Linked DNA regions of Homo sapiens: region 2 is linked to region 1. Evidence: fine-mapped expression QTL. A gene starts in region 1. The other region holds a variant in brackets. All regions are shown on one strand. Distances are from middle to middle. Region 1 holds the start of KAZN (kazrin, periplakin interacting protein). Region 2 overlaps KAZN (kazrin, periplakin interacting protein).

Region 1 (2,912 bases):
TCTGCCTTCTGGCTACTAATGAACAGTGCTGCTATGAACATTCATGTACAAATTTTTGTTTGGATATTTGTTTTGGACATATACCTAGGAGTGGATTTGCTGGGTCGTATGGTAATCCTATGTTTAACTGTTCAAGGAACTGCTAATATGTTTTCCACAATGGCTGCACCACGGCATCCCCCTTTTCAAGACCCACACAGCTCTGTAGTTTTGATGCTCTCCCCATAACGTAACTGAAAGACTGCAAAGAACTGAATCCTGGTTTGCAGATACACTAAGCAGTTCTAAGTGCCTTGGTTGGTCCAGTTGGTAAGAACTTGTGTTAATGAGGTTAAGGTCAGGGTTCGATCCCCGAACTGACCCATTAGCTGAGCAGAGCGGACAGAGTGAAGAATTGTGTCTTCCTGCCACATGCTCCACCATCAAATCCTGCCCTCTTGCAAAAGCTTGTTAGTGGTCACAGGGGAATGGAGCAAGACTGTTTTTATGGTTCCACAGAAAAGGGGGGAGAAATCTATCATCCAAGGCCTCCTGAAGGCGCAGCAGGAGGAACTTGCAATCAGATGATTACTTTCTTCCAGTCCCGCTGTCACCTGGTTTCTGCGGGCCCCTTAAGTAAATTGCTTAACCCTATGCAGAGCCTCAGTTTCCTTATCCCTAAAATGGGAATAATAATCCTCACTCACAAGAGATAAGAATGCATATAAAAGCACTCTACACGCAGTTTTTGCTTGGTTCTTATGGGCTTCCTGTAAGAACCTGAAGGGTGGGCAGCCTCATTTTTCCTCGCAGCACCCCACTGGCTTCTGCAATCTGCTCTTTGCTGCTCTCCGGAGGTTGACTGAGCTGGAATGATGGCGCCCTGTTGACCAGAGGGTTGCTGGCTGTTTTAAATTGTCCTATTTGCATGGAATGAAGTTTGCTATGGTAACAAGGTCTGGTGGCTGGAATCCAGGGCCCCAGTGAAAAATGCAAAGCCTGTGGTCTGGGAGAGAAAGAGGAGCTGGAGAGGGCATATCAACGTCAGGTTACCTCAGTTCTTCTGTGAAGAGGGGATGGGTAAACTGAGGCAGCAGGGCTCAACTCTTCTGCTCCCAGTAGAAGAAAGGGAAGAAGCCCCATCGACGCCTTCCTTCTTATCTCTCAACCTCATCTCTGTCCCCGCCAATATTCAGCCCGGCTAAGAAGCTTAGGAGCTGGCTAAGGCTGCTCCTCCACCTGGATGCACACACAGGGCTAGGGCTGTGGAGAGGCGGGAGCACCAGCGGCCCACGCCGAGGAAGATAGGCGCTCCCTCCTGGGGTGGGCAGCGCAGGTCTGGCCTGCGGGTGGGGGGTGGAGAGTGAGAGGCACGCGGGGCACCAGCTCAGCTCCCCTCTGGGGATTTCGTACTCGCAGTTTAAGGAACCGGTGGAGCACGAACTCCACTCCTGAGCTGGCGCAAGCGTCTCCCTTCCATGGAGATCCACCCCGGCTCCCCTCTGAGGCCCCCTTTCCAAGCACCCTCTCTTCCGAGCACCCAGCACCTCCCCAACCTTAGCACGGCTCGGGGCACCAGTTCTCCAGGGCGGGGGCTGCCCCACCGCTCAAGGGAGGGGACAGAGGGCCGGCCTCGGTCCAGGCGACCCCTGCCCCTCGCCAGGGGCGCCACCTTGGCCCCCTCCCGACTGCCGTCCGCCGCCTCCGCCCCCCCGGGGGGTGTGTCTCCGAAGTACGGGGGCGCGGGAGGCCAAGGGTGCCCCCAGCCTCCGACCGAGACCCCCTCCCGAGCCGGCGGCGAATGGTAGGCTCCATTTAAAGAGTGCCTGGTGGCGCGCGGTGTCCTTCTTGGAGCAGCTCTCGGCGCCCGCCCGCCGGGGTCTCGGCGATCGCTGCTCCTCCTCCTCCTTCTCCTCCTCTTTTTTCTCCTCCGCCTCCTCCCCCCGCCGCCTCGCCACCGCCGCGGCTAGGGCTGGAGGCGCCGCTGTCATTCCTGTGCCGGAGGAACCGGCGCTGCCGGTGCCTGGGGGTCGGGGCGCGGGCGAAGCCGGGCCGCGGAGGACACAACAGGTAGAGCCGGGGGTGCCCGGCCGCGCGCCCCCCGCGCATCATGCAGCTCTTTGTCACCTCTCTCGCCCCCAGGCCAAAATCCTGAGCATGATGGAAGACAATAAGCAGCTCGCGCTCCGCATCGATGGGGCGGTCCAGTCGGCCAGCCAGGAGGTGACCAACCTGCGAGCCGAACTCACGGCCACCAACCGGAGACTGGCGGAACTGAGCGGCGGCGGCGGCCCCGGCCCGGGCCCGGGAGCCGCGGCCAGCGCCTCGGCGGCGGGGGACTCGGCGGCGACGAACATGGAGAACCCCCAGCTTGGAGCGCAAGGTAGGATCGCCCCGGCGCCCAGGGCGGAGGAAGGCGAGCAGAGCACGCCCGGCCTCGGAGGTGGCCGGGGACCCGGGGTCCCCCACACCCGGGGCGAAATCGCTTTGCATTCTGGCTTGTAACCCTTTCCGCCCGGCGGTGGCCACCGCTGCTCTCCGGCTGGGAGTTGCAGGCTGCTGTCATTCACGAAAACCCGAGCGCAGTGTGCACGGGGTCACACGGTCACACCGGCCCCGGCCAGCCTGAGCGAGGCGCAGCCGGCGGGTCCCTTCCGGCATCAGAAAGTGCCCTTTCCGTGGCACCAGCCCCCTAGCTCCGTGCAAACTTTTCATGCCGGGGCCTTTTCCCCACCCCCCGCAGGGGTGAATGGCACAGTTCCCCCCACTTCCTTAGGCTCCTTCCCAGAGAGAGCTCCGGGCTCTGCCGCCGTGGTTGGGATAGAGGATTGCACTGCTGTGCACTTTTCTCCGCGGATGCCAAATCCCTTGGCTCAGTTGCATCTGGACTTTATTTTCTTCTCATTTGAGGTCTCTCAGGCATTGGAATCTAT
Region 2 (2,912 bases), 270 kb after region 1:
GATCTGAGTCACAGGCTCACATGCTGACCCTTGGAATCAGAGTGGGGTCAGCCCCACGTGAGTCTCAGTGTCATGGACTCAGAGTAGGGGAGAGAAAGGTGACCCGGGAGAATGGGGGTGTTTAGAGGGGGTGGGCCAGGAGGAAATCAGGAGCTCAGTCTGGAGCATGCTAGGCTGGAGATGTCTGTTAATCATCTGGGAGCTACCAGAAGAAGGGGGCATGAATATGCGCAGACAGCAAGGCAAGAGGCTATTGCTGGCAGATAAACATCTAAATTCCTGCACTCCTGTATCAGAAGCTGAATTAGGGTGCAAGCGTGTGGGCACCAGTCCCTTAAATTACCCTTCTTTGGAAGGAATAATGGACTTGGAGTCAGAAGACTAGATTTCAAGACTAGCCTCTGCTTCATACTGACTGGGGGACTTCTCTGGGTTTGTTTTCTTGTCTGCAAAATGGGATATAATAAACTACTACTTTAGGGTGGTTATGGAGCAGTGCTGTCTGATAGAACTTCCTAGAACTTTCTATTTAATATGGTAGCCACTGGCCACATGTGGATATTAAGCAATTAACATATAGCTAGTGTGACTAAGGAACTGAATTTTTTATTTTATTTAATTTCAATGAATTTAAATTCAAACAGCCACATATGGCTAACAGCAACCATATTGTACAGTGCAGTTTTAGATTATTCAATTGGATCATTACAGTTTGCTTTGTAAACTGTGAAGTGCTATAAGGGAATATTCATTGCATCCCTTAATTGAAAGCTCCAATGATGAAGCCAGGTACTGTGTGAATAAGTCTTGCTCATGCTCATAATTATTGTAACCACTGATCTAAGTGGGGCCTGAAATCCTTAAAATGGTCTTATTTCTGGACATCTCCCTTCACATTTGAAGGATTAATATAATGGATCTCTCATGAACCTATACAGAATCCCAGTAAGAAATTATTGCATGGATGGATGGTTCGATGGATGGATGGACAAGTGGACAGATGAATGGATAGGTGGATGGATGGATGGACGTACAGATGGATGGGTGGAAGGACAAATGGATGGATGTACAGACGGATACATAGATGAATAGATGGGTGGATGGATGGGTGAATGGATATATGGATAAATGGATGGTTGGGTGGATGGATGGATGGATGGATAGATGGATGGATGGATGGATGGATGGATGGAAAGATGAGTAGAAGAACATATAGA[A/T]GGATACATGGATGGATGGATGGATGGATGGGTGGGTGGATAGATAGATGAATCGGTGGGTGGATGGATGGATGGGTGGATGGATGGATGGATGGAAGGATGGATGGATGGACAGATAGATGAATGGATGGGTGGATGGATGGATGGATGGAAGGATGGATGGATGGACAGATAGATGAATGGATGGGTGGATGGATTCATCCATTCATTCCTTCTGTCACCTGCTATGCACTAGGCATTATTCAAGTAGTTAGGGATAGAATAATAACACAGACAAAGCTCCTGCTTTCAGAAAGACTGTATTCTAAAGGGGAGAGTCAGATGTTCAAGAAGAAAACAAATAGCATAAAGAATTTCTAGTAGCAGTAAGCACTATGAAGGAAAATAAAGTGGGGAAGAGGGATGCAGAATAATGGGGCTGCTGTTTCACATAGGGTGGTCTCTTTGGTAAAGCAGCATTTGAGAAAGCCTTGAGGGAAGGGAGGAAGTGAGCTATGCAGAGATCTGAGGGAAAAGCAGAGAGAACAGAAGAAGGCTAGCATGGCTAAACCAGAGTGTGGGAGGAGAGGAAATGTAAAAGGAGAGGAGGTCAGAGGGAGCCAGGGGCCTTTCAGGCTTTTGGAAGACTTTGCTTTCCTCTCAGTGAAATGAGAAGCCAGTGGTGGGCTTTGAGAAGAGGAGGGATTGGATCTGACATATATTTATGTTGTGTTGAAAATAGACTCTAGGGAGGAAAGGCAGGTGCCGGAGACAAATAAGGAAGCTACTGCAATCATCTAGGCATGAGTTTGTGGTGGCTGGGACCAGGGAGAGAGCAGTGCAAAGTGGGGCAAAGTGGCGAGATTCAGTATCTAGTTCAAAGGTAGAGCCAGCAGAACTGACGTGGTGGATGTGGTGGGTAGGAGAAAAAGGAGAAGTCCAGAATGATTCCAGAGATGCACCCTTGAGTAACTGGAAGGAAAGCACTTGTCATTTCTTGAAATAGAGAAGACAGGGGCAGGAGCGAGTTTAGAGGGGGTGGGCCAGGAGGAAATCAGGAGCTCAGTTTGGAGTATGCTAGGTTAGAGATGTCTATTAATCATCTGAGAGTTGACTGTCCAAATTTCAAGGGAGAGGACAGGGCTGGTCATATCCATTTGGGAATCATCAGCATATACAGATGATATTTAAAGCCACGATACCAGACAAGTGAGTACAGATAGAGAATCCAAGGATTGAGCTCTGGAGTCCTCCAACATTTGGAGGTCGGAAGGGGGAAGAGGATCCAACAAAGGCTACTGAAAAGGAACAGCTGGTGAGGTAGGAAGAAACCAGTAGAGAAGTGACATGTGTCCGGAAGAGAGTGTTCAACTGTTAGATGCTGCTGACAGATTAAGTAAGAGGGGCTGGAAAGGTGACCACTGGATTTAATAATGTCATTGGTGACCTTGAGTTGTTTCAGAGGAATGGTGGCATGAATCGCTAGCTAGCTGGCTGACTGGATGGATGGATGGATGGATGGATGGATGGATGGATGGATGGATGGATGGACAGATGGATGGAAGGCTAACTTAACTACTGCAGCTAACTTAACTACTGCAGGTAACTGCACCATCTTGTCACCTGTGACAGCAATTAAGCAACTGTTGCCTGACACTCCGTGTGCCAGAACCAAAAGCTGTCAAAACCAATCTCCTTCTCCATTCACCCAACTTT

The links. PIP is the estimated chance that this variant, and not a neighbour inherited with it, causes the effect.
Region 2: its variant is fine-mapped to the expression of KAZN in whole blood (TOPMed, PIP above 0.99).

What each region holds. Positions count from the first base shown.
Region 1 is chr1:14,596,862-14,599,773 of GRCh38, forward strand. KAZN (kazrin, periplakin interacting protein) reads left to right here and starts at 1,824. Exons shown (of 15, transcript NM_201628.3): 1 at 1,824-2,362. The coding sequence starts at 2,137. RefSeq lists a silencer at 2,491-2,650.
Region 2 is chr1:14,871,776-14,874,687 of GRCh38, forward strand. The region is part of intron 1 of KAZN (kazrin, periplakin interacting protein); the gene reads left to right. Among named protein-coding and RNA genes, the nearest start is that of KAZN, 270 kb to the left of the region's middle. The variant A/T (reference allele first, on the strand shown) is at 1,218.